4 linked regions of the Homo sapiens genome follow. The protein of the gene in region 1 interacts with the protein of each later gene in a pairwise test. Each region holds a gene or a part of one and is shown on either strand. Other genes may lie near its edges.

Region 1 (7,033 bases):
AAGACTGACATATAGGACATAAGGGAGTTATAATGAAATCTAATTAAAAATCAAGATAAAAAGGAAATAAGTACCACAATATCCATTTTATCCCTCTATCCTAAGTTTAACTTAAGGAGATCTAATATATATGGACGGCAGCCAGGGCATAGTGGTACAAAGTACAACAAAAATTCATTTACAACTTTCTGATTAAAAAAAAAAACCTAGATTCTCCTTCAATTCCAACATAAAATAAAGAGGCAATCACTCACTATATATGTGTAAGTGTGATATTTATATATGTGTGCACACACATATAAATTATTACTGACAATATTTCTTTATAACAGGAAGTAGAAAAAAGGAAAAAATTTAAATGAGTAGAGCTAGGAATTGAGCTTTATAGAATAAGCCATCTATCTCATTTTCTAAGTAAATAGCTGAAAAGAATTTCCTTAATAGCAAAATGTTTACATTCATCACAAAACATGGCACACAATGGGCACTCATTTAATCTGTTAAAAATTACAGCCGGGCGCGGAAGCTCACGCCTGCCATCCCAGCACTAATCTGTTAAAAATTACAGCCGGGCGCGGAAGCTCACGCCTGCAATCCCAGCACTAATCTGTTAAAAATTACAGCCGGGCGCGGAAGCTCACGCCTGCCATCCCAGCACTGTGGGAGGTCGAGGCCAGTGGATCACCTGAGGTCAGGAGTTCGAGACCAGCCCGGCCAACATGGTGAAACTCCTTCTCTACTAAAAATACAAAAACTAGCTGGGTGCAGTGATGGGCGCCTGTAATCCCAGCGACTCAGGAGGCTGAGGCAGAAGAATTGCTTGAACCCACGAGGCATAGGCTGCAGTGAGCCAGGATCATGCCACTGAACTCCAGCCTGGGTGACAGAGTGAGACTCCGTCTAAAAAAAAAATAAATAAAAATGATGTGTCAAATGAAGACGTGATCACAGGATTATGATCTATAGCAGTAATACTGAAAAAGTGTAAATCAAAGGTAATGTACATACTTTACGCAGTTGGTCTATTAATTCCAGCTCTTCTTCTCTCTGTCTTGAATTCTGTCCTGTTATGGAATCTGTAGAATCAGTGGTAGGTGCAGCAGATGGAGGAAGGGGTGAAGCATGACCTATAAAAATATTAATATGTAAGACAGAAAGGCAACTGGCAGTGCTAGGAGAACATCCGGCTCTGCCTCATCACAGTTTCCCTGCAAGTGCAGTGCATGGCTTTCTACCTCCTGCAGGTACAGTGCATCGCTTTCTACCTCCTGCAGGTACAGTGCATGGCTTTCTACCTCCTGCGGGTACAGTGCATCGCTTTCTACCTCCTGCGGGTACAGTGCATCGCTTTCTACCTCCTGCAGGTACAGTGCATGGCTTTCTACCTCCTGCAGGTACACTGCATGGCTTTCTACCTCCTGCAGGTACAGTGTATCGCTTTCTACCTCCTGCAGGTACAGTGCATCGCTTTCTACCTCCTGCAGGTACAGTGCATCGCTTTCTACCTCCTGCAGGTACAGTGCATCGCTTTCTACCTCCTGCAGGTACAGTGCATCGCTTTCTACCTCCTGCAGGTACAGTGCATCGCTTTCTACCTCCTGCAGGTACACTGCATGGCTTTCTACCTCCTGCAGGTACACTGCATGGCTTTCTACCTCCTGCAGGTACAGTGTATCGCTTTCTACTTCCTGCAGGTACAGTGCATCGCTTTCTACCTCCTGCAGGTACAGTGCATCGCTTTCTACCTCCTGCAGGTACAGTGCACGGCTTTCTACCTCCTGCAGGTACAGTGCACCGCTTTCTACTTCCTGCAGGTACAGTGCACCGCTTTCTACCTCCTGCAGGTACAGTGCACGGCTTTCTACCTCCTGCAGGTACAGTGCACCGCTTTCTACTTCCTGCAGGTACAGTGCACCGCTTTCTACTTCCTGCAGGTACAGTGCACCGCTTTCTACTTCCTGCAGGTACAGTGCATGGCTTTCTACCTCCTGCAGGTACAGTGCATCGCTTTCTACCTCCTGCAGGTACAGTGTATCGCTTTCTACTTCCTGCAGGTACAGTGCATCGCTTTCTACTTCCTGCAGGTACAGTGCATCGCTTTCTACTTCCTGCAAGTACAGTATATTGGTTTCTACTTCCTGCAAGTACAGTATATTGCTTTCCACTTTCTGGATTGACTTTTTAAAAGGGTTTTTATTATGGAGATTTTCAAATATACACAACAGAGAATAGTATAGAAAAATATGTAATGTTCATTACCCAGTTGACTCAACTACTTTTGTTTGATTACATCCACTTAAAAATGTTTTTATTGAAAATTAATACACAGAAAAATACACAAATCGTAAGCACAGTGCTCAAAAAATTCTCCTCACCAAGTGAACACAATCAGGTTTTTAATGCAATCTTACCAATCCCAGGAGCCCCTTCCATGCTCCTTGCCCATAAGTACCCAACGTGCTCAAAACCGCACCCTGACTTCTAACACTGTAGGCTGGTCTGGTTCATTTTTGAACTTTGTATAAATTATGCTGTATTGTATGTATTCTTTTGCTTCTGGCTTCCTTTGATCAATGGTAAGTTTATGAGATTTATCCATGTTGCTGTATATAGGAATTGGTTCATTTTCATTGCTTATATGGTATTCCATTGTACAAATATACCACAATTCATTTATCCATTCTCTTGATGGACATTCAGTTTCAGGCTATTATGAATAATGCTGCTATGAATATTTTTGTACACGTTGTTGGTACACGTGTGTACATATTTCTCAAAAGTAAAACTGCTGGTCATAGGGTACACAGTCATCCGTCAGTATCCAGGGGAAATTAGTTCCAGAAACCACCTCTCTCATACCAAACTTTGTGGACGCTCAAGTCACTCATATAAAATGTAGTATTATTTGCATACAAACTATGCATATCCTCCTTTATACTATACTTTAAATCATCTCTGTTACTTACAATACTTAATACAATGTAAATGCTATATAAATTGTTACTATACTGTATTTCAAAATTAGTATTATTTCTTTATTGTGGCATTGTTTATTATCGTTGTCTTGTTTCTGAAGATTTTTCTGTCCATGACTGGTTGAATCCATAAATACAGAATCTGTGGGTACAGAGGCTGACTGATAACAGTCTTCCATGCTTTCTTACACTCTCACCAGCAGTGCATCTGTAGTTTGACTTTTAAATCTTACTGTGAATGCATCTGTTGGTAACATTGAAGGTAAGTTGTGTTTTTTTTGTTTTTTTGAGACAGGGTTTCACTTTGTTACCCAAGCTGGAGTGCAATCGCGCAATCTTGACTCACTTCAGCCTCAACCTCCTGGGCTCAATCCATCCTCCCGCCTCAGCCCCACAAGTAGCTGTGACTACAGGCCTGCACCACCATGCCTTTTTTTGTTTGTTTGTTTTTGTTTTTGAAACGGAGTCTCGCTCTGTCACCCAGGCTGGAGTGCGGTGGTGCGATCTCGGCTCACTGCAAGCTCTGCCTCCCGGGTTCACACCATTCTCCTGCCTCAGCCTCCCGAGTAGCTGGGACTACAGGCACCTGCCACCATGCCTGGCTAATTTTTTTTGTATTTTTAGTAGAGATGGGGTTTCACCGTGTTAGCCAGGATGGTCTCGATCTCCTGACCTCGTGATCTGCCCGCCTCAGCCTCCCAAAGTGCTGGGATTACAAGTGTGAGCCACCGCACCCAGCCAATTTTTTGTATTTTTTTAAGAGATGGGGTTTTGCCATGTTGCACAGGATGGTCTCGAACTCCTGAGCTCAAGTGATCCCATCTACCTCGGCCTCCCAAAGTGCGAGGATTACAGGCACGTGCCACCACGCCTGGCCTATTTTTTAATTTTTTTTGAGACATAAGTTTCACACTGTCATCCATGCTGGAGTGCAGTGGCGCAATCTCAGCTCACTACAGCCTCCACCTCCTGGGTTCAAGCGACTCTGCCTCAGCCTCCCGAGTAGCTGGGATTACAGGCGCCTGCCACCATGCCTGGCCAGTTTGTTACTCTACCGCCCAGACTGGAGTATAGTGGCGCCATCTTGGCTCACTGCAACTTCTGCCTCCCAAGTTCAAGCAATTCTCCTGCCTCAGCCTCCTGAGTAGCAGGAATTACAGGCGCCTGCTGCCACACCCGGCTAATTTTTGTATTTTTTCAGTAGAGACGGGGTTTCGCCATGTTGGCCAGGCTGGTCATGAACTCCTCAAATGACGTGATCTGCTCGCCTTGGCCTCCCAAAGTGCTGGGATTACAAGTGTGAGCCACCGTGCCCAGCCATTTTTTGTATTTTTAATAGAGACAGGGTTTCACCACGTTAGCCAGGCTGATCTCAAACTCCCGACCTCAAGTGATCTGCCTGCCTTGGCCTCCCAAAGCACTGGGATCACAGGCGTGAGCCACCACGCCTGACCTTATTTTTGTTTGTTTGTTTGTTTGTTTGTTTTAAGAGACAGAGTCTTGCTCTGTTGGCCAAGCTGGAGAACAGTGGTGCTTTTAATTATAACTCATTGTAACCCTGAAGTCCTGGGCTCAAGCAATCCTCCCCGCCAGCTTCCCAAGTAGCTGGGACCACAGGCACACACCACCATGATAAAAGTTGTTATTTTTGACTTGAAATGTTTGTTTCCACTCCCAGGTAACTTCTTTGGGGACCAGGGAGAAATTTGTCATTATTAACTAAAAGAACATGAGACTTAAAGTAGATTTTAAAACAATTATTGTTTTAAGAAAACAGCTTTTATCAATAGAAAAATGTGAAAAAGAGTTCATTACCAAGACAAAGAACATTCTCTAAAGCCTCGAAAGCGCATTTTATTTGTTCAAACACTCTATAACCTGCTTTTAGGTGGCACTAAGAAACTTTCTCATCCAAACAAATTCAGATAAGATTTTCCTGCTTTAGTATCAGTGAGATCACAGACACATGCTTTTGCCGAGCTGATAGCTTTGTCTTATACTATATGCAGAAGTTTAAAAGCATCCATCTAACAGCTAGCGTCGTTGTGTAAACCTCCCCTCGCTCCTGGCTTTTAAAATCACCACCACCTACCTTTGTTGGTTTCTGCCCTGACACCTGCTCGGAAAAGGAAGCTTTCAGGGCGCTGAGGCTGATTTCTCTGGATAGCAGCAGGAAAAGAATATGCAGGGGAATGATGAACTAAATTAGCATGAAAAATAAAATGAGATTAAAGGAGATGAAAATATAATAGCAGACATACAAGTTACAAAAGTAACAAGTAAAAAATAAACATGGCAATGATATAAAATAATTCTATTTAATGATGAAAAGTCTGGTACAGAAAATAATCATGAAACCAGGAGGACCGCTTGTATGTATTTTACATTGTCATGTTATTTTTGGTGTTATCAATAAAGGCAGAATGAATGTTATCATATTGAACAGTCTCCCGCAGACCTACGGCTGTTGTTCACTTATTCATATCAAATGGCTGACTAGCTGAGCAACCAATTTAATTTAAAAATGGGAAAAAAAAAAAAAAACCCAGTGGTTTCCAATTCTGTATCTGATTTCTATCTCAGAAAAAGCAGCCACAGCTCTCTAACAAGTAATTTAGGAAAATCTTGGTAAAAAATTATAATCTTAGCCGGGTGCTGTGGCTTACATCTGTAATCCCACCACTTTGGGAGAACAAGGCAGGAGGATCCCTTGAGCCCAGGAGTTTGAGACCACCCTGGTCAACACAGAAAGGCCTCGTCTCTATTTATTATTATTTTTTAAATAAAAAAATAAAGAATTATAATCTTGATGTGGTTAATTGCACCTTTGTGTCTATTACCTGTTTCTGTTGCAGGTGAACTTAATAGAGCATTAGGTCTGTCATCACTCTGTGGAGAAACAGACATATATCAATAATTGTTATTCAAGAAGAAATACTTTCTACTTTTATGGTAATTTTGAAATTATAAAAGACAAAAAACAGGTAACTCTCCTTCACGATTAAGTCTAGAGGTGAGAATTTGGGTCAGGTGCAGTGGCTCATGCCTGTAATCCCAGTACTTTGGGAGGCTGAGGTGCGAGGATTACTTGAGAGCAGGAGTTGAGACCAGCCTAGGCAACATAGTGAGACCCTGTCTCTACAAAACGTCTAAAAAATTGGTCAGGCATTGTGGTGTGCTCCTGTAGAGGCTGAGGAGGGAGGGTTGCTTGAGCCTAGGAATTAAAGACTGCAGTGAGTAATGATTGTGCCACTGCACTCCAGCCTGGGTGACAGAGGGAGACTCTCTCTCTCCCTCTCTCTCTCTTTTTTTGAGACAAGGTCTCACTCTTGTTGCCCAGGCTAGATTGCAATGCCATGATCTCCCAGGCTCAGGTGATCCTTCTACCTCAGCCTCCCAAGTAGTTGAGACTACAGGGACACATCACCATGCCCAGTTAATTTTTGCATTTTTTGTAGAGACAGTGTCTTGCCATGTTAGCCAGGTTAGTCTCAACCTCCTGAGCTCAAGCGATGCACCCGCCTCAGCCTCCCAAAGTGCTGGATTATAGGCATGAGTTACCGTGCCTGGCCTGACCCCCTTTGGAAAAAAAAAAAAAAAAAGAAGAAGAAGAAAAAGAAATGAGGATTTGGTGAAATGAATTAATTCTGTATTTTTAAAAGCCAAGTTTTTGTTTTTTTGTTTTTTGTTTTTTTTTTTTTGAGATGGAGTTTAGCTCTTATTGCCCAGGCTGGAGTGCAATGGCACGATCTCAGCTCACCACAACCTCCGCCTCCCGGGTTCAAGCAATTCTCCTGCCTCAGCCTCCCAAGTAGCTGGGATTACAGGCATGCACCACCATACCCAGCTAATTTTTTTGTATTTTTAGTAGATACGGGGTTTCTCCATGTTAGTCAGGCCGTTCTCGAACTCCCAACCTCAGGTGATTCGCCTGCCTCGGCCTCCCAAAGTGCTGGGATTACAGGCATGAGCCACCACGCCCAGCTGTTTTTATTTTTTATTTTTGAGATGGAGTCTCGCTCTTGTTGCCCAGGCTAGAGTGCAATAGAGCACTCTCA
Region 2 (6,799 bases), on another chromosome or scaffold:
AGATAAAAGAAAAACCTAATTGTTAAGTAATGAAAATTGAGCTAGGAATGAAAGATTGATATGAATGAAATGCCCAGTACTAGTAGAAAAGCAAGGATTTTTCTTTTCTTTTGGCAAGGAGAATCAAATGTTACATACTTTGCACTTCATTGGATTTTATTCTAAGAGAAATCTGATTTCAGAGTAAGTAAATATCTTTAAGGGAAAGTTTATGCTTACTGTTATAAGGTTTTTTTTGTCATATGGTTGTCTAAATGTTGTTAATATCTATGTCATTGTGGTCATTTTAAATCCTAAAATTTGTTGGCAAAAGAAAAAATTTTTATATGGCTTCTACTTTTTGTGGAAATAGTGATTAAACTGACAAATGTCTACATCCTTCAGATTTTTGAAATTACTGTTTATTTTGTTCTATCATAAATAGTTGAATAAAAGTTACTGTACAAATTTGAACTCTTTACAGGAAGAATATAAATCTAGTAAATAATAGTAGTTTGTTTTCCTGCCGTGTGAGTTTATTTTAGGTTACTGTTACAGTGATTTGTGGGAATCTGACAGGGGTTTGTTGCTGGTAGTGGTGGTGGTAGTGGTATGTGTGTGTTTGTGTTGGCAATGCTAAGAAACATCTTAAGGGAAAGACAATTCTAAGAAGTAACACTCTGAATTTTATTAATTTGTAGGCAATAAATATTTTCATTTTGTTTTAAATTTACTATTAGGGACCTTTCTTCTTTTTAAAAAATTATTGGGGTATATTTTAGGATTAAAGGCTCTTTTCTTTTCCCTTGAGCTGCTGGTATAACTTTCCTTGTTCTGTGTAATAGCTCAGCAAAACCCAGCAGCTCAGATTCCTGCCAGGCAGCGGGAGATTGAAATGAACCGACAGCAACGCTTCTTCCGCATCCCATTCATCCGCCCTGCCGACCAGTACAAAGACCCTCAGAGTAAGAAAAAAGGCTGGTGGTATGCCCATTTTGATGGACCATGGATTGCCCGGCAAATGGAACTCCATCCTGACAAGCCACCCATCCTACTTGTGGCTGGTGTGTATGATTCACATGGAAAACAAATTATAGAACAAAAAAGATCATAAACTCTCTGAATGAAACATTCTAATGTATAATATAATAATTTATTACATTTCAGGGTTGAGGGATGGAGTCTTGCGGTTAAATCACATTTCCAGTTCAGTGAGGATTAACTCATTTATAATGTGAAATTGCTTGGATTAAATTATGTTCTTAGCACATAGAAACTTGTCTGTATCCTAAAAACCTTTCCATTTGTGTTTCATCATATCCATTGATTTGTAGTGGCTTGAGGAAATGTAGCATTTTTATTAACTCTGGTAACTTGTTTGATCAATAGCAGTGTTTATTAATATTGAAAGGGTCCTTGATGGGGGACAAATTTTAATTGTTTCTGGTGATTTTATTAAGCAGATTTCCATCTTAGAGAAAAAGTCTTAGGAAGTTTTCAAATCTATGAGAATTAATAGGTATTTCAGGCATACAACTGGTAAGAAATGGTCCTGAAGAGAGAGATGGTAATTTTCTGATATCTCATGAATACAGGTAAGGACGACATGGAGATGTGTGAGCTGAATCTTGAGGAGACTGGCCTGACTCGGAAGCGTGGTGCTGAGATCTTGCCAAGACAGTTTGAAGAAATCTGGGAACGCTGTGGAGGCATCCAGTACCTTCAGAATGCGATTGAGAGCAGACAGGCTCGGCCCACCTATGCAACAGCCATGCTGCAGAGTCTGTTAAAGTAGATGTTGCACACCAGCCTTACAGCTGGGAGCCTTTGCCATGGTACTTAGGTAGGGTGTGTGCCCCCAGATTTAACCATTCCATAATCATGTTAGAGTTACTTCTATAAAGTGAACAGATTTTATTAATCACGGCTTTTGGTGAATTTGTTTAAGGTTAATTATGGTAGCAAATTTTGGACCTAAACATTATTTTTCTGTATCCCGCTGTAATTCCCAAAACTCTCATTATTCTCTAACTATTACACATGGGCATATTCTGATGTTTCTCATCCTTTGCCAGAAGACTACCTTACATCCATCGTAATTGTTCTCTAGGAAAAGAGAACTTTTTTCAAAATTCAAAATACTTTTTAAGGATGGCACAGTACCATATAACTGGAGTAATAAAACATGAGCTTACATTCTTACAATAACTAAACCACTTAAAATGATCAAGGCACTAATGTTTTGGTCTGAAAAGCTGTGTACTTTATAGACATTTTCAGACATTTTTGGAAATTTCCATTAAAGGTGGAAAATCTATTTTTTTCCTCCTTTGCAGTGTCTTAGTTTGAATGAAACACTTCGAAGTTCTAGAATTCTAGAAAGAGCCTTAATGTATTTGATGTATTCTGTGATAAGAGGTACTAATAGTATCCAGCACAGATTTGCTTTTCTTTGCTAGCACAATGTGTGTTGCTGTCAGAATATTCTTTTTATATTCTGTGGAAAAATAAAGGAAATTCAGATTGTTTAAATGCCTAAAAGTTTTGAGATAAGTTTTGTTTCAATTAGAAAAGGAAATAGGTTTTAGGTGGCATAGTGGCTTAACTGGACTGAATTCAAATATTCTTTCAACTTCATCTCAATAGTGATTTTTGTATCAGAATCTTGTCCAAGTTGTTTCATTGATTTAGTAAGTGTTCTGCTTCCAACATCTTTCTTTTTAAGAAATTCCTAGTGTCTTTTTTGGCCTTTGAGGTTTTGGTAATTGTAGACCTGTTTCATAAGCTTTGTAATTCAGAAATCCTTGTATTTAGTAAGTGCTTGTTTTACATAACTGATAATTTTAAAATGTTTTCTTTGTGTGCTGTTAGTATTGATTCAAATGTCAGCAGCTTTAAGCCTAATATTTATGACTTTCACATTTGGAATTTAAAGACAAAAATACATCAAGGAGTTATGCTGACATAATTCTAAGGAGTTTTGTTGTATTTTAGAATAAAATTATAAAGTAAAATGATTCTCTGTACTGCTTTTTCCCCCAGTTTTTAGAGACCCTAACCTTTGAAATGAAATTCCAGTGATTTCTTTTTTCCCTAGAAAGATTACCTCAGTTAGGGAAGTATTTCCCAGCTGACTAGTGTTTGTGAGCCACAGACACTGTCTTCAGAATTGCTTCTCTCATGTCTTAGTAGAGAAATATTTATTTATTATGATACATTCAAATGATTGTCAAGTTAAATTAAATGGTTGTGTCTGTGCTATTGAGAATGCAAATGTGATTATCTTTTGAAGGCTGTATTACTGCATAGCTTCACCCACCCTCGGGTCATTTCGTCCCTGTGATTGGGGACAGAAGGTGTAGCTACTGAAGTAAATGACCTATTCTCTCTCTTCCATCTCTCGCCTTTAACTGGTGTTTTTATTTGTGTAGGATAGTGAATGATAAGCTTTTTTCCTAACCAGTAGTGAGTAAAGTTCTTGAACAAAATTTAGTAGCCAAATTGTTTTTTAATGACATGTCTCTTTAGTACAATAGTTTTGTGTATCTTTTAGATACATTAATAGGCACTAGATGGAAAATTAAAGAGTTAAACATATTTAAATGAGAGAATCTAATGTTTCAGAAATTTGTAAGAAATGTATCACAGCAAAGGGTTGTTATAAGTCCTTAGTTTTTGACTCTAATAGTTAATACAATTATAGTTAATCTTAAGCCATAATGTTTCTAATCATGTCACACAGCTGTCCTAGAACTTATCTATTTAAAATAGTTTCCTGAGTTAATTTTGGCCAGCAGGGCAACTGCCCTAATTCAGATAGATTTACAGTAACCTACGTACAGTAGATGCACATACACACAGACACCCCTTTGCTGGAGAAACTTAGGACCCTGTCAGCCTTTTAAAGGAAACAGCAGGAGTGGTGTCCTAAATGATGTTCATGCAGCTGCTTTACCATGTTCACAGTCAAGCCCATGCATGCCAGGTTAAAACTGTGGAAATCAAAAGTAAATTCACTCATATTTTAATCATTTTAACTGAGATTTAAAATTAGAAGTTTAAACCACTATATATAAAGAACTAATCTTTTCTTAATACCAGTTCTTTCCATAGCATATGCTTTGCAAAGGCAGCATGCATAAAATATTTAAAATGAGAGGACAGAATGTTTTCACATTTGATTCAATTTTAATATAATTCCTAATTGTGGTAACACAGTTGAGATATGTATTATGAGTTATGGGAACTAATTGAGAAAAGGAAGTTACTCTAATCCACGTATGTTAAGAGAATATTGAGTTTTCTTAGTTGTAAAGTTGGGGAGATGGCACCTTCTCAGAGGATTGTGAAAATATGAGGAAGAAACAAAACAGTGCATGTAGGAGCACAGGGCCACACAAAGGCATTCTATTGTTATGCTCATTCTGCTTCTGTAATGACTTTTCATAGGTCATTCTTGTGAACCATTTTGTTTTGCAAGCAACCAAGGAAAGAACATCTTAAGTGGAAAATCAGTGGTGGTTGTGAACACTTAGAGAATAGCAATCCACAGGCAAGAATAATGGTATTGTTTGTAGAGCTTTATTAATTGGATATTTTTTAAAAGACATTTTCATTCACAGGTCATTACTATGGTTCTCAGCGATCCAAATATGTAGATCATTGGTTTTTTTTTTTACCTGAAGTAGCTTAAGAGTACTTGGATCAGTAGAATAAATATTTATTGAATCAATCAGTCAGCCAATTAATATGATGTTAGTGATAGACCTGCCTCCTTTTATGGAAGAGGTAACAGATCCAGAGAGGTCAAGTAATTTAGTTGTAGACTGAAAAATATATCAAAGCCTTTGCTGCAATCATATGTAACAAAAAGAACCAAAACAAACACTTTTTAGTGGCACCTGTGGATTTACAAAGGGTTGCCTCTCTGTCATTCCACAACTTCAGAAGGTGTGACAGGTTTTCCCTATTTATCATTACCAATAATAACAAGTATTGAGAGTTTTAAAATTTCTCCCAGAAGATAAACTAACAAGGATGGAAGGGGAGGGCAAAGGATATCTAAACATGAGAATAAGGACATGTTAGAGGGGGGGAAACAGTTGTAACAATAAGGAAAGAGAAGAGCAACAGTGGAAGAGACAGGTTGTGTGCCCCTAAAGATTCTGCACCCCCAGTTTGGAAACACTGATACATTTTAGGACACAGAGCACTCCTAGATCTCTACGAAATTTTAGAATGAATAATGTGTAATTTATAGGATCAGAACGTATGGTTATTAAAACTTGGATCAAGATATGCCCGGTGTATACATTCTTAGCACATAGGAATGGCACTGCCATACTGGAGAAGGTCAGCAGTAAATAGGCATTCTGTACATAAGCCTCATGGAAGGGTAAGATGGAGAGACTGGCAGAAGTAGCACCTACTCTGCTGGGAGCACTTCTCTGAGTACGCTTTAGTTCAATTCAAATCACTGTATTCTTTCCCCATTGCTAACCTAATATATGAAACAAGCTTAGCTGTCTCAGAAGTTTTTCAAGAGATGATCAGGAAAAATTAATGCACATTCAAAAGGAGAATCTTCAGTACAAATTTGTTTTTTTAAAAATAGATTTAGGGCTGGGCGCGGTGGCTCACGCCTGTAATCCCAGCACTTTGGGAGGCCGAGGCGGGTGGATCACGAGGTCAAGACTTCGAGACCAGCCTGGCCAACATGGTGAAACCCTGTCTCTACTAAAAATACAAAACATTAGCCAGGCGTGGTAGTGGGTGCCTGTAATCCCTGCTACTTGGGAGGCTGAGGCAGGAGAATCACTTGAACGCGGGAGGCAGAGGTTGCAGGGAGCCGAGATGGCGCCATTGCACTCCATCCTGGGCAACAAGAGCGAAATTCCATCTCAAAAAATAAAATAGATTTAGGGGGTACAAGTGCAGTTTTGTTACATGGGTATATTGCATAGTGGTAAAATGTGGGCTTTTAGTGTACCTAACACCCAGAGAAGCATACATTGTGCCCAGTAGGTAATTTTTCATCCCTAAACCTTTTCTCAGCCTCCCACTTTCTGGAGTCTCCAATGTCGGTTATTCCACTCTTTATGTCCATATCTACACATTCAATCCTAATTTGTACCAAGTAGCATCTCACCTTTAAATCACAGGCTTATTAGTTGGGTGTTTTCTTTTTACTTATGAAAATTCATCTAGTCAAACTGTCAATTAATTTTTCCTCATTTCATTAAAAGTGTATATCTAATGCTTTCTCTAAAAATTGATGTACTGGAAATACAAATAAATAAATGCTCCCTGTGTAGAATTTCCACTTGCATCTTGTGCTTTTAATACCATTACAGGGTGTCATGAACAGGTTGTAAATGTTGCACTTATTGCCGTGTTTCAGATGGAATAAGTTGGCGAATTCTGGGCTCCTGAAGCTTGATCCAGTCGCTAGGGCTGGAAGCACTGTGTTAGGTGGCTGCAGGAAGAAGCAAGGAACTCAAGGTGATTGAAACTTCTTTGGACATAGGCCCCAAATTTCCTATGTGATCTCCATCCAGGAAACAGGCAGGATTCTGTGTGAGTGACAGCTACTCATTTTGTAGAGATTAGAGACACACCAAATTTTGGCTGCCTTTCTCCAGACCGTTACTAATCTGTGAGAAGACACAGGATGTAAAAACTGGGGACCAAAAGAAGGCTCCTTCTCCCTAAGGCCTTGAATATAGCTGGTCCATTCCCTGTGTCAAGAACCTACCATGATCCTGCTGGGTCCTCTGAGAGTGGAAGGAGACTCTGTCCATCTCACCTCATCAGCTCTTCC
Region 3 (7,526 bases), on another chromosome or scaffold:
CACTGCACTCCAGCCTGGGCAACAGAGCGAGCCTCCATCTCAAAAAAAAAAAAAAAAAAAAAAAAGACAGAGGTTGCTCTCTGAATGCCTGAGGGATTCAGGGCTGAGTCCACCAACATTGTTTCATGAAACTCTACTCAGCCAGCCAGTGGAGGCATCATGTATACAGTCAGCACTCCACATATCCTCACTTCCTGAGCATCTACAGTGCAAACCGACACACTCATCACACTCAAACAGCACATGCCGCACGTCAACCCGAGCCTCCCTCACAGGTTGCTTTCATCTCTTTTTCTCTCTTCACTGCAAGTTTTTTGCCCAAATGCAATTAGACACTTTTTTTTACAGAGACAGAAACCAAAGAGTTTTAACTAGGCACCACTACAGCAGTGGCTGTTGACCATCGTCTCCTGGCTGGAACCAGGGAATCCTGTGGGTGAGGGAGGAGCAATGCAGCAGCCCCAGCTGACTCACTCTGGGGTGGATGGATGGATTTACTCACTTACTTACTTATTTATTATTTGATTCTTGTTCTGTTGCCCAGGCTGCAGTACAGTGGTGTGATCTCAGCTCACTGCAGCCTGGACCTCCTGGGCTCAAGTGATCCCACCTCAGTCTCCCAAGTGGCAAGTAGCTGGGACTTCAGGCACATGCCACTATGCCAGCGAATTTTTTAAACTTTTTGTAGAGACAGGCTCTCACCCTGTTGCCCAGGCTGGTCTTGAACTCCTGGCCTCAAGCCATCTGCCCATCTTGGCCTCCCAAAGTGCTGGGATTACAGGTGTGAGTCACCACACTCAGCCCACTCAGTTTTGAGTGGCCATTTGCTTTGACTCAGCAAACACTTCTGATGGTAACAAAGCACCAACTGGGTGGCTGGTTTCAATCCTACTCTTGCCACCCAACACCGCAACATTTTATCAACCTGGAGCAAATGCTCTCGGGTCCTGAGGAGCTGGCCACACAGCCCATTTTGCTGGTGGGACAGTGGGAAGCCCCGCCCTCCTCCCATCCCACACCACTTAGGCAAGAGCTGTGCCTAGGAAATGTCACCCGTAACTGGTCCGCACAGACCCTGTCTTCTAAAAGGGTGCTGTGCCTCCACCAGACCCCATGAGCAATACATTTGTCAAGCACACGCAAGACATGCCAAGGCCAAGGCCTGACTGATTTGACAGTAAAGACACAATGAGCCCCTCTCATTCAGACCTTATTACTCACAGAGTGAAAATAAGAGAAGCCTGAGGTGGCAGCTCCCTGCTGTCCTGGTGCCACACACTAAAAAGGACAACACTGAAACAAAAGGGGTCAGAGAGCATGCGTTGCGGGACACCCACTGTGGAGGAGCCCCTTGACACTGCAGCTGGGTGGCGTCCTCATCTGCAGCTCTGTTTTGAGGGCCGGGGGCAGGGAGCCTCACCCTCACCAGGGCCAGTGAGGCAGGAAGTGAGGAACAGTCTCGGGAGACAGACGGAGTGAGCGGTGGCCTGGGTGCAGCCTGATGTTCTGGGAGGAGCAGGCTTAGGTCAGGTGCTGTGTGCACCTCTGCATGGCCTATGGGGATCCTGCAATGGCTCAGGGCCCCACAGCAGAGCTGTTTCTCCGCCCACACAACAGACATACAACCTGACACATGAAAACTCACAGAGAAACACAGAAAGGCACATGTGACAAAGAGCCACACAAAAGGCATGCAGCAAAGCCTTTTGACACACGTGCGCGCACACACACACACACACACACACACACACACACAGGCACCCACTCCTTCAAACCTTGGTGTTTGCCCAGACACAGCTGTGTCAGAGACAGGGGACCTGCAGCTCCCCAACACACACCAGTCACCCCACACTAACCCAAGGTGTCACCAGCCAGCCTGGTGGACTCGGGAGGCCAAGTGGAGGTGGACAGTGGCCGCAGAGCAAAGGCCTTCGGTGGATACCACCCGACGGGAAGAGCCATGGGGCCCATCGTGTCCACACACACAGGGGAAACGCACGTCTGCGAACCAGCTCCCCCATTCCTACACATATATCACCCATCCCTGGGGCTCTGGAGGATGAGACCCCTCCTTCCAGACCAGGCCCTCCCTGAAGACCCAGAGGTGGCCCAGGAGTCCCCATGCCTGAGTGACATACTGCTCATGTCCATGAAAAAGAAAAGGAACTTTGTGTGTGTGTGTGTGTGTGTGTGTGTGTGCGCGCGCGCACAATGGAAGTTTATATATATATGTATAAAGTATATATATATATTCATATATATATTCTTTTAAGTTCTGGGGTACATGTGCAGAACGTGCAGGTTTGTTACATAGGTATACACGTGCCATGGTGGTTTGCTGTGCCCATGAACCTATCATCTACATTACGTATTTCTCCTAATGCGAAAGGAACTTTTTTATCTGAGGAATGTGAGCTCCCTTTAATTATCTGGCCCAGAGAGGCACTGGAATGAAACAGCAGTCACATCCCACTCCTACTTGAGCTAACGACCTCTTGAAGCCAATTGCTCTGTGGGTTCCAGACTGACACCAAGTAGGCATAAAAAGCCATACGCTGGACACCATAACTCTTACCCAGTAGTCCAACACCTTATAGCCAGTCACTAAGGGTTCTCTCTGGAAAGCAGTCAGAATTCCTGCTGACTTCATATCAGCCCACTCCTTGTCCCCTTCAGTCTTTAAAAACTTGCTTGTAATAAGGCTGAATGAAGCACTCCCAGGGCAACTTGGTGTGTCCTGGGCAGCTCTCTCAGCCTTGGCCCAGACAAACTCTCTATATGAACTGTGGTTCAGTTTGTTTCTTTAGGTTGACATCCACATTAGGGGAGCAGTGTTGCTGGGCTGGGGAAGCTGGTTCAGGTCAGACGTTGCACCAAGGGTTGGAGAAGGGGCCTTCCTGCATCAGCACCCGGACAAGGCAGAGGAGCAGGTGTCCAAACCCAGGCCTGGCCTGCTCCTGCTGTGGCTCACAGCCCCCACCCCACCTGGCAGACCCCGGAGCTGGCGACAGTGTTGCCCAGCTGGCCACAGACATATCATCACGTGGGGCTGCCCTATATCCTCCCAGTCTCCACACAGACACTCTTCATGGACTGGGGGACTGAGGGCAGGGACACTGGTGAAACAGGCAGGCGTCTTCACCCAGCTAATCATCCCACTCACCACCTCCGGGGGAGGTGACAGTGACCAAGCCCAGCCCCAGCTGGCTCCTGGTCACTCACTACAGACTCAGCTCCCACAATCTCGAGTCCCACCTCCAGCTCCTGCCATTCTGAGGGACCTGGAGGCCAGGGTGCCCGGCGCATGACCAGCTCTGGGTTGTGGACCGCCCTCCACGGCAGTGGCCTGAGCGCTTGTCATTATTCACTTTATTCATGCCTGGTTTCTGTCTGGAAGGGACCACAAGGACATGGCGTGCAGGGGAGCCAATCCTGCCAGGGACTGAGGAAACAGATCCTGGAGAAAACCAGACACTTTGCTGGCACTTCAGGGGGACCCCAGTTGGTTGGCTCAACGCCCCCTCTTCCCCATAGCCAATTACTAACCAATGTTCTCTCTGGAAACCAGTCATAATTCCTAACCTGGTCAAAGCAGGGTCATCTCACACAGCCCAGCCACCCAGCAGGCAGCTAAAGAGTGCCTGATGAAATGCAAGTCTGATCGTGTCTGCGTCCCCAAGCCCTTCCGTGCCCCCTGCTGCTCTATGGACAAGCCCCCAGCAGCCTCTGTAATGCACAGCACCCGCCCTTGTCTCCTGTGCTGGCTTCCGCAGCCTGGCCACACTGGTCCTCTCGCCCACCCACCTGACCTGACTCTGGCAGGGCCTTTGCAGGAGCCATTCCTCCACCCGAGCCCCTCCTATTAAAGCCTGTTCCTAGACGGTTCAGCCCCAGCCACCAGAAGCCCCCCAGCCCCGGCCCAGCAGCTGGCCTGTGGAGCGGGGAGAGCGCAGTCTGGGCTCACGGGCTGGGGGCCACGGAGGCCCAGATGGGGACTCTGGCTCCGACTGTCCTGACCCAGAGGCTCTAGGGCGGTCCTGTCTGTCTCACCCCGGGGGCGGGGAGGACGCAGACAGACCCCAGCGCCACTGCTCGGCCGCGGATGGTGCCTTAGACCCAGGTCCTGTGGGCTCTGGCCCGAGACCCCTGCCTCTGGGGAGGCCGGTGACCGGGACAGTCCACCTCGCAGGCGCGCCGGCGCGGAGCCCGGACCTCGGCCCGCAATGACTCAGCAAGGGCCGGTGGGATTCTCCGTGGTCCTGCGATATCCAGACGGCGGAGTCTCGCCTTTAATGTCGCGCGGGGAGCAGGCAGGTGCGAGCCTGGGCTGAGCAAAACCCTCCTTGGAGTCTCCGCAGAGGAGCGGGGCGCGCCTCCTGAATAAGCAGGCGGCGGGGCGCGGGGCAGGGCGGGGCAGGCGGCCAGGCCCTCTCGGGACTGTCGTAAAAGGGGGCGGAGCGCGCCGCGCGTGGGACAATCGTAAAAGGGGCGGGACGCGCCGCGCTCGGGATGTCGTGAAGCTGGGGGAGCTCGTCGCCGCCGCCGGCGGCTAGCGGGCGTCCGCGCCATGGAGCGCTACGCGGCCGCCTTGGAGGAGGTGGCGGACGGTGCCCGGCAGCAGGAGCGACACTACCAGTTGCTGTCGGCGCTACAGAGCCTGGTGAAGGAGTTGCCCAGGTACGCAGGCGGGGCGGGCGGAGGCCTGCGGAGGCGGCTTCGTTTCCCGCCGGGGCTCACCGCGCCCCCCTACCCGCAGCTCTTTCCAGCAGCGCCTGTCCTACACCACGCTCAGCGACCTGGCCCTGGCGCTTCTCGACGGCACCGTGTTCGAAATCGTGCAGGGGCTACTGGAGATCCAGCACCTCACCGAAAAGAGCCTGTACAACCAGCGCCTGCGCCTACAGAACGAGCACCGAGGTGCGCGGGGGCAGCGGGATGAGGTGCCGCCTCCTCCGGGTCGGCGCCTCCGGGCAGCTCTTGGTATCTGTGCAGATCAGCTCCTTCCTTGGAAGTGTTCGGAAGAGGTCTCTAAGATTGACAAAATCAACGGGCGCAGAGACTGAGACAGCGCCTTTTTGGTGATCAGTGGGTCCAACCAGTTTTGTTTTCAGTTGCGCAGCACCCACCTTCTTAGCAGAAACTCCCTGTTCGGGCTTCCCTGTGCCCCACGCGCTTCCAGACAGGATGGCCCTAGGCCTCGGTGCCTGATTGGCCTGCAGGCAGACTCTGGTGGTGGCGCTGACTGCAGCAGCATTGCCCCTCAGTAGTTGGAAGTCTGTTGACAGTTGTGCAGCAAGCGTCTTTCAGGGTCAGTTCCCTCTCAGGCCTCGCAGGGCCTCATTCCAGTTGCACATCAAATTCCTAAGCACTGTCTCCTGTGGCGCCCTCCCAAACCCGAAGAGCTTCCCACTTGAGCCAGGCCTGCTTGGTGGGCTTGGGAGCCCTTTCCTGCAAATTATATAGGGCAGGTCCCCCTGCACCATCAGTTTCCACCTTTGTTATTTTTCCCAAACTTCTTATTTTAGAAGTTAAAACATTTAGAAAAGCTGAAAAGATAGTATAGTGCATACGCTTGTGCTCTTCACTAAAGTTCAATAGTTAACGTTTTGCTCTAGTTCTTGACATCCCAAAATATATACATGTGACAGCATAGCATTCACCAAGAGTCTTCAGCATTCCTGGAGACCAGGATTTTCAACCCAGCCATGCTGACATTTGTGGCTGGGTAAGTCTTTTTGGTGAGATGCTGTCTTGCGCATTGCAGGATGGCAGGGGTACCCTCCCTAGTCCTGAAAACCAAGAATGCCTCCAGACAACCTGGGTGGTGGGGTCAACCTTGGCCTTGGATTGGGAGCAAGTGCTCTAGAACAAAACTGGTCTCCTACACAGCTGCAGAAGGTAGCCCCCTGAGAAATTAACTGTTCCGGGTGTCTCCTGACTTTCAGTGCACGGCCACATCATGGTACCTAACTTGTGGCAAATTGTTGCTTTATAAGTAAGGATCCAGTCCAAGTTCATGTACTACAATTGGTTACTTTGGTCTCTTTGCTTCTGAAACAGTCCCCAACATTTATTGTGGCATTGACTTTTTTGTAGAGTCCAGGGCATTCTAATTTTATAGAATGCCCTGCTCTTGATCTATCAGACGAAATGCTTCCTCTTGCATTTAACCTGCTTCTCCACTCTCTGGGTTTCCTGTACACTGGACTGCTGGTAGAAGCCTGATTAGAAGCAGGTTTAATGTGGCAAAAATTTCTCCTAGCAGTGCAAGGCCCCCTTCCCCAGAAGGCAGGCAGTGTCCATCTGCTCCAGGATTGGTGTGTTTTTATCAAGAATGGATGTTGGATTTTGGCAGTTCCCTTTTCGGCAGCTCTTGAGATGATCACGTGGTGAATCATTTTCTATTACTACAGTGAATTACAGTCACTTGAATTCCATCCTACTGGGTCGTGCTGTAGTATCCTTTTTATGTATGCTGGATTTGATTTGCTAAAATCTTAAGAATTTTTTGGTCTATGTTCATGATAAACTGTGGTCTATAGTTTTCATGTAATATCTGGTTTGGGTATCAGGGTTTTTGCCAGCCTTATAGGATGAGTTTCGAAGTGTTCTCTCCTCTTCAGTTTTCCAGAAGAGTTTGTGTAGAATTGGCATTACTTCTTCCCCTAAATGTCTGGGCGATTGTCTTTTTAAAATTTTTTATTGAGCTGTAAGATGTATGTAGTTTACTAATCCCAAGCGCATGGCTCATTATTCCTTAATGCCCAGACTGTGCCATGTGTGGCCAGTTGGGGGCGCTCCAGGCACCTTTAGATGCCGCCCCATCATTCTGTGAGCACTTTCTTGCTTTCTGGTTCAGGTATGTGTTCAGGCTCATCTTTTCTTGTTTTCTCCGTGTCTCAGTCCTGGAATCGGCCATTTTTCCACAGAGCTATAGTTCCTTATAGCAGGATGGGGAGTTTTAGTAACTGCCTGGGCCCAATGCTGTTTGTGCTTCAGAAGGTTTGGGCCAGGCCCTGGTTCCACCAGCAGCAGGCATGCCTGCATTGACTTTCTGCTTCTCCTGCTGATTTGGCAGGGGCGACTGGCTGCTCCTGCCTCCTTTGTGTTCCCTGGTCATGTCTAAGGCCAGGCCCCTTCTGCCCAGGCAGCCAGCGTGGCTCTCTTCTTGCCTTTTGGTTGTCTATCTAGTGGAATCTGGTAGTGGACCTGGCACTTGTAGCAATGTTTGATCAGTAGAGTGAAGGAGATGACATTTCCCTGCTTCCCTGTGTTATGGAGCTGTCTTGAGGGGGGCTTTTGGTAAATACCATCGTCGAGGTGTGTACAGAATGTGAAGAGACAGGAGATCGGGGAAGGCTGTAGGCACAGCGGGAGCCAGGCTACCTGCAGGGGAGCCTCAGGGGCCCTGGAGTTCCCTGGGGACTGGCCACCAGAGAAGAGCTGCAACATCAGGGCTCTTCCCAGGAACAGAGTGTTGGGTTTCACCTTTTCTTTTGGCCAGGGACCCCTCCCTCCTGGGGAGC
Region 4 (7,285 bases), on another chromosome or scaffold:
CACTTACTGTGTGGCACTGGGCACGCTGCTTAACCTCTTTGTGCTCCAGATTCCTCATCTGCAAAATGGAGGTGATGATACTAGTGTCTACCTCAAAAGATTTTTGTGAGAATTCAATGAGTACACACACAGAGAAACTTTCAGAACACTGACTAGAAGGCAATAAGCAGCTCAATAACTGTGAGTGAGCTATTATTATCATCCTTTCTCAGGAGCCCAAATTTCTCCTTTAGTTGAAGGAGGTTGAGAATTGTGGAAAGAGCCGCGAAAGCCGGGAAGCTCGTATCCTAGGTTCGACGTCTCTCCTGACTGACGGGATGTGACACTGGCTGAATCAATGTTCCCCTCCTCATCTCTAAAATGAACAGGTACACTAGATGAACTCTCGAGCACGGTCTCTCTAAAACCTGTACTAATGACATCCCTGCGTCTTTTTTTGGAAAATACAGGAAAGGCAGCGGAAAAAAGGGCACACAGGAGCAGTCAGGAGATGTTAGCAAGAGGCAGAAGGCCATTTATTGGGAAGCACGGGGGAGAGAGAACATGTAAAAAGGGTTTGTGGCACAGCAAAAGAGGACCACTTTCTCCACCCACATCTTTCAAATCTGTCCACTCGCCTCAGTCCTGTGGGCGGCAGTGCGGTGTAATGCAGGACCCAGAGGAAATCTTCGTGGGTTCTGTTCCCAGCCCTGATAGTTACTGTGTGATTTACTCTCTGTGCCTCACCAAAGAAATAGAGATGTCAGTAATCCTTCCCTGCCTTAAAAGGCTGCTGGGAAGATCAAACAAGAGAATGCAGGTAAAGCATGTTAACCAAGCCTGGCACATCAGAGCTACTCATTGGAGGAGTGCTTGTCATCTGTCCTGTTGCCACGACCTCAGTTCAGCCTACTATCTCCCACTCGAACTCCTATAGGGCCAAGCTATGCCCATGAACAAAACCTTTTGGTTTCTCTGTGGCTCTTTTGATAAATTTCTAAATCCTAAGTACAAAACCTGTATGAGCGGATCCCTGCCTACCTGTCAGGCCTTCCTTATCTCTTTGCTCTCCACTCCTTCTTTCTGTCTCACACCAGTTCCTGTCAGTGACAATTAGCCACCAAGAAGCCCTGCTCTTTCTCACCTCTGGGCAATTCACTGAGCTTTCCTGTTTCCTTTCCAGACAGCACTGCTTCCTCAGAGAAGCCTCCACCCACCTTGGGGTTAGGTCCCCTACCCACACCCTCAGGGCACAGGCACCCCTCTCTCTCCTGGCTGTAACCACTATACTTCTGTTTGTCTTCTCCCTCCCTAGGAGGGTAGGCCCACATCTGCCTCCTTCCTCACTGTATCCTGCATTCAATACCTGATTCAAGGTAGACACTCCGATGCAAGTCTGACAAGTTAATGATTTAACAAATCAAAGTGGGCACGACTCAGAGAAAGAGGGCAAAGGAAAATTCCCGACATAAAAAAGCGAAGAAGAAGGAGAAGGAGAAGGAGGAGAAGGAGCAGGAGGAGCAGGAGCAGAAGGAGCAGGAGGAGGAGGAGCAGGAGGAGGAGGAGCAGGAGGAGGAGGAGCAGGAGGAGGAGGAGCAGGAGGAGGAGGAGGAGGAGGAGAAGGAGGAGGAAGAGGAGGAGGAGAAGGAGAAGGAGGAGGAGGAGAAGGAGGAGGAGGAGAAGGAGGAGGAGAAGGAGGAGGAGGAGAAGGAGAAGAAGAAAAAAACCAACTAGGGTGAGACCAGGGGATGGGGAGACAGCCCTGAGAAGAGAGGAAGAAATATCAGTAGCTGATTTAGGAAAGGAGTTTCAACATTTACAAATCACTCCCCCCCGACCCCCACCTCTCCCACTTGCAGGCTGTCAGGTCTTCCAGGGCAGAAAGCCCATCATCTGGAGCAGTCTCTTGATTTAAAAAAAGTTAATTATGACATTTTTACAATGATAAGTGATCAATTAGGTAGAGCTGTACAAAACTGCCATATGGGGAGCTCAAAAACGTTGTCGATATCAAAATGGTTCATACAATATAAATAACTTACCCGCATCACCTTGCAGTTTGTTAGTATATTCTTAAAGAAACACGTTTACTACCGGGCGCAGTGGCTCACGCCTGTAATCGCAGCACTTTGAGAGGCCGAGGCGGGCGGATCACCTGAGGTCAGGAGTTCGAGACCAGCCTGGCCAACATGGCAAAACCCCGTCTCTACTAAGAATACAAAAATTAGCCTGGCGTGGTGGTGCACGCTGTAATCCCAGCTACTCAGGTGGCTGAGGCAGGAGAATTGCTTGAACCCGGGAGGCGGAGGCTGCAGTGGGCCGAGATCGCGCCGCTGCACTCCAGCCTGGGCGACAGAGCAAAACTCTTGTCTCAAACAAACAAACAAAAACACGTTTATAACACTTACTGTGTCTAAAACAGTAGTATGATTGCCATTATTTTGGAGATGAAGAAGCTGAGGCCCAAGGGGTGAAGTCACTCGCTCAAAGTCACAGGAAGAGGGAGGACTTCAACCCTGGCTCCAGAGTCGGAACCCTCCACCATTAGGCTACACTGCCTTCCGGAATGAGTCCGAAGATTGCGGCTTGGAGACAGTGACTGGCCCACGTTCACAGCCAGTAAGGAGCCACTTGGCCGGAACGTGGTGTGTCTGGCGCCAAAACCCCTGCACGTTCCCCGACCCCTTTCCTGGAGTCCAGTGCCTTTCTGCCTCTTCCTCCCCTTCCCACGGCCCCGCCCATTTTACAGATTAGGAACCTGAGCTGGAAAAGGCCAGGCTGTCCGGCCAGTCTGCAGAGGACCTGGTGCAGCCGGGGCTGCGGTGCGGAGGGCCGGGTGGGGTTAGGGTCCGCCCAGGCGCGGGGGAACCGACAGCGCAGGGCGGGAGCGGGCGGCGAGGATCCCACGAGACCCGGGACTACTTCCACAAGGGGAACGATCGAGGACGGAAGGTGGAGGGGGGCTTACTCCAGCCCATGGCGCCTCTCCAGTTCGCTGACCCCGCAAGCCGGACCCGGACCTCGAATGACGCTTTTCACCCTTCACCCCTGCTCCTCAGCGCGTCCCCGTCGGAATTCAGGAGCCATGGCAACGGGGACTCTACGGCGGCCGCGCGGGACCAAAACAAGCCGCGTTTCCTGAGCTCCGCGGAGCAAGCAGAGGAGACCGCAGTGAAGGGGCTCAGCAGACAGGGGTTCCCCAACCCAAACCCAGTCTTCGTCCTCGTCGCACTTCCGACTTGCCACAGACTGCTTCCCTCTCCCTGAATCAATGGTTTAGAGTGAACAAAGTATGAGGACGCTTCTCTTTTCTGTGCCTTCCAGGCTTGCCTTCCAGACCGCCTTTGACTTTTTCCTTTTTGTGTTTGATTTACAGCTTCCAGAGCCAACAGATCTGGATTTGGCCCCCAACTCTACCAGCGGCGTGACCTTACACTTCCTTCTCCTCAGTTTGCACATCTGTAAGATGAGAAATAACCTAAGAGGATCACTGTGAAGCTTTAATTAGATAATTTGAGTGAATGAAAGACACTATGAAAACAACAGGCTCACTATAAAGATTCGTTGTCGTTGTCATATTCCAGCTTTTTAAAGTCACTCTCCAACACTCGTTTCCGGCTAACAAGCTTTCCAGAAACGCCACCCATTACCCCCTCCATCAATTTCCCTATTCTCCACTCTCTTAATTGTAAAATGTAGGAAGTATATCTCCTACAGCCCCACACTCCCCTCACGTTTCCCCAGACCCTTCTCCAAAAGTGTGCAACGCGCCTTCTCCCATTCTAAACTAGGAAGCACATCAGCAAGCTCATTCACCCTCAGATCTTAGTGTTAGCACTTTAATGCGTTAGCTTCCCAAGAATCTTTAAAAGGTACCATTATTATGAAAGTAATTATTATTCTTTACTCCATTTGCAGAAAAAGGAGGGGGGCAATATGTAAAAGGTAAAACCTTCTCCCATCCCAGTCGTTTTAAACAGTATGGAGTGCGTGCTTCTTATCTTGATGTGTGTATTATGTTTGCATTTTAAAAGAAGATTCCTAGAGCAATGCTGAGTGCAAAGAAATTAATTTTTCTAGCGAATAGCTGTTAAGCATTTACAGCTGGCAATTATTAGAGTTTGCCAGGTAGAGACAAGGTCATGAACTTGGACAGAGAGGCAGGAAAGTCTAACAGAGTGAGGTGATGGGGGGAAGCAGAAACATCAGTTTGGCAATAAAGAGAGCTAGATAGAAGGGATCTTCGAACAGTAAGAATGAGAGATTAGATCGGGGGTAATGGGGGCCTTAAATGCCAGGCCAAAGGAACTGAACTGGAAGAGTGGGATTTCAGGCACTATTTCCCTGAATATTTGGATTTCCAAGGAGGCCTCCCAAAAGGCACTCAAACTATAAACTTACCTGACATCCACTATTATTTTTCTGAAAGCAGGTTAGTGTGAGGTGAACAGTATTAGCTCTGGCATTGGAAACATAGATTAAATACACAGATTTATTACTGTGTGGCATCAGACAGATGACTTCACCTTTGAAAGCTGAAACTTCTCTATTTCCACATGATGATGACAATATGGGTAAACATCTGTGGTCGTGCCACTGACACGCTGACACTGACACGTGACACTGAGCACTGATGTCTGATTACTCACAAAGGAGATGAAATGCTATTAGCAGCAGGCAAGTTTAGCAAATTCGCCTGTGCTTGAATTGTGCATTTTAACAACAAGGGGTTCATCAAGGCTAAAAAGGATCTAGCTTCTAGAAGGAAGCTACTACTGGGCAGAAAGATTAGTTTCTAAGCTGACAAAAGCATGAGGTCAGGCCTACTATAAAGGATCTCAGCTTGCAGTGAACTAGGATTGTGCCATTGCTCTCTAGCCTAGGTGACACAAAGAAACGATGTCTCTTAATAAAAATTAAAAAAAAATAATAAAGGATCTCAGCCTCTGGATCAGGAGACAAAGGGAGCCACTCCAGAACCGCAGAAAGTTCTCAAGAGCAATTGCAACCCAGGTATTTGACATGTTGGCTCTAAGCTTCTATCCTCACTCTCAGACCTACTCACTGTTGACTTAAAAAAAGAAACTGAGGTAAAATTAATATATATAGTCCCAGCTACTTGGGAGGCTGAGGTGGGAGTACTGCTTGAGCCCAGGAGTTCGAGGCTGCAGTGAGCCATGATCACTGCACTCCATCCTGGGCGACATAGTGAGACTCTGTGTCTAAAAAAATCGGGGTGCTGGTGCGTTGGGTGCCTGATGAGAGCCTGGTCTCCACTTCCAAGATGGTGCCTCATTGCTGCATTCTTCTGAGGAAAGGAGCCCTCTGTCCTCACATGACAGAAGGGATAGAAAAGGTGAAAAGGGGTGAACTCCATTTGGCAATCCCTTTTATAAGGGCATCTAATCCTATTCATGAGGGTGGAGCCCCTGTGACTCAATCACCTCCTTAAGGCTATGCCTCTTAATACTGCTACATTGGGGATTAAATTTCAACATGAATTTTGGAGGGGACAAAAACATTCAAACCACAGCAGCCCCTTTGACAACTAGAGAGTTCAAGAGTAAGATTGAGAGTTTAAGAGTGATGAGAAAGAAAATAAACTTTCTATCTGAGGAATGGGAGCACCCTTTAAATTATCAGGCCCAGAGAGGCACTGAAATGTGACAGCAGTCAAGTTCCAGTCCCCCATCCCCTTAAGCTAAGTAATCGTTTCAAAGCTGCCTGCCGTATGGACCCTAGACTGCGTGTTGCCACCAATGGCTATAAATAAACCTAACAATGCTGTACACTGGACATCATAACTCATTCCCTATAGTTTAACAATGTACAACCAATAACTAATCAATGTTATTTCTGTAAACCAGTGAGAATTCCTAACAAGCAACTTTCGTAGTCACCCGTTTCCTGATTAGTCCTTTTTTCTTTAAAACTGGAACCTCAACTTTGTTCTCCAGAGCACTTCCCAGTGTTTCCCAGGTTTCAGTCTTCAACCTTGGGACTATGTGTGTGCACCATCATGCCTGGCTAATATTTTTTTAGATTTTTTTATAGAGATAAGGTCTCACTGTGTTGCCCAGGCTGGTCTTGAACTCCTGGCCTCAAGAGATCCTCCCGCCTGGGCATCTTAAAGTGCTGAGATTACAGGTGTGAGCTACCGTGACTGGTGCCTAGTGCCCTTATATTGAACTTCCAATATTGGACTTTTATCAAGAATAAAAATAAATTTTTATATAAAAATAAATTTATAATTTATTAATATTTATAAGAATTTATAAGAATAAAAATAAATTTTTATTCTTGAGAAATGACTTAGTCTTAGATATTTCACTATAGAAGTAACAACAGACTAGGACATGTGCCTTGGATTTTTCCTGTGAAATTTTATATCTGTGGGACTCAAGTATTCTGTTCATTCATTCATAAGTGAATAAACAATTGGGCTGTCATTCTACTGGAGAAAAATCTCTAAGATACTTTTAAGCACTGTGCGCTCAACACTGCCCATGTACTTTGAAATTACTAACTCAATTCTCACAGTAACCCTCAAGCAGGTCATATTGTCATGAATATATTACAGATTAGGAAACTGAAGCCCAGTGATATTATTTTACTAAAGCATAGTGAATCAGAATTTTGTGCCTAAACCTTAATTCTATACTGCATCATTTTTTTAGACTGAGAGCTACTCGAGGGCAGAGAGGGAATTTTGTTATTGTTGTTTGTTTGTTTCCATCCCTGAATCCTAGCTCTCGCAAAATTCCTGACACTTATTGGGTGCTCAGTAAATATTTGTTGAATGATTGAATGGAGGAGTCAGTGAGCCAATTTCTTCAAGAGCTTGGCTGTCTTTGGTGTAAGGCCTACATCTTGTCACTTCAGTAGGATCACCAACCACAGAGGTGTCCCTGTTGTAAAGGAATCTAGCAGGCTTACCAGGAAGTGTACCTCATTCTCTGGTTATTGGACTGTTCTTTTTCTTGGGACCTTTTCACCAAAATCTAGGATAAGATCTGGTTCCAGGGGCAAGGTCTTGACAGATTGTCCTGACACTCTGGTGGAGCAGTGTTTGGCTCTGTGTTCCCACCCAATTCTCATCTTGTAATGCCCATAATTCCCACGTGTTGTGGGAGGGACCTGGTGGGAGGTAATTAAACCAGGGGGTGGGTCTTTCCCTTTCTGTTCTCGTGATAGTAAATGGATCTCACAAGACCAGATGGTTTTAAAAGTGGGAGTTTCTCCGCACAAGCTTTTCTCTTTGCCTGCTGACATCCACGTAAGACATGACTTGCTCTTCCTTGCCTTC

Evidence for each region.
Region 2: the proteins of LRCH3 (region 1) and MYO6 interact in binary tests that used the Homo sapiens proteins (3 or more experiments, as listed by UniProt).
Region 3: the proteins of LRCH3 (region 1) and DGCR6L interact in binary tests that used the Homo sapiens proteins (3 or more experiments, as listed by UniProt).
Region 4: the proteins of LRCH3 (region 1) and DNAAF11 interact in binary tests that used the Homo sapiens proteins (3 or more experiments, as listed by UniProt).

Annotation. Positions count from the first base shown.
Region 1 is NC_000003.12:197,864,254-197,871,286, reverse strand, and holds part of LRCH3 (DISP complex protein LRCH3), read right to left. Parts: intron 5,865-7,033; coding exon 5,816-5,864; intron 5,176-5,815; coding exon 5,068-5,175; intron 1,128-5,067; coding exon 1,009-1,127; intron 1-1,008. UniProt on the Homo sapiens protein: As part of the DISP complex, may regulate the association of septins with actin and thereby regulate the actin cytoskeleton.
Region 2 is NC_000006.12:75,913,239-75,920,037, forward strand, and holds the end of MYO6 (unconventional myosin-VI), read left to right. Parts: intron 1-824; coding exon 825-1,043; intron 1,044-1,574; coding exon 1,575-1,774; 3' UTR 1,775-6,299; downstream 6,300-6,799. UniProt on the Homo sapiens protein: Myosins are actin-based motor molecules with ATPase activity. Unconventional myosins serve in intracellular movements. Myosin 6 is a reverse-direction motor protein that moves towards the minus-end of actin filaments.
Region 3 is NC_000022.11:20,317,030-20,324,555, reverse strand, and holds the start of DGCR6L (protein DGCR6L), read left to right. Parts: upstream 1-4,495; 5' UTR 4,496-4,567; coding exon 4,568-4,677; intron 4,678-4,756; coding exon 4,757-4,917; intron 4,918-7,526. UniProt on the Homo sapiens protein: May play a role in neural crest cell migration into the third and fourth pharyngeal pouches.
Region 4 is NC_000008.11:132,672,537-132,679,821, forward strand, and holds the start of DNAAF11 (dynein axonemal assembly factor 11), read right to left. Parts: upstream 3,010-7,285; 5' UTR 2,958-3,009; coding exon 2,948-2,957; exon of another isoform or gene 2,022-2,947; intron 1-2,021. UniProt on the Homo sapiens protein: Involved in dynein arm assembly, is important for expression and transporting outer dynein arm (ODA) proteins from the cytoplasm to the cilia. Acts as a crucial component in the formation and motility of spermatozoal flagella.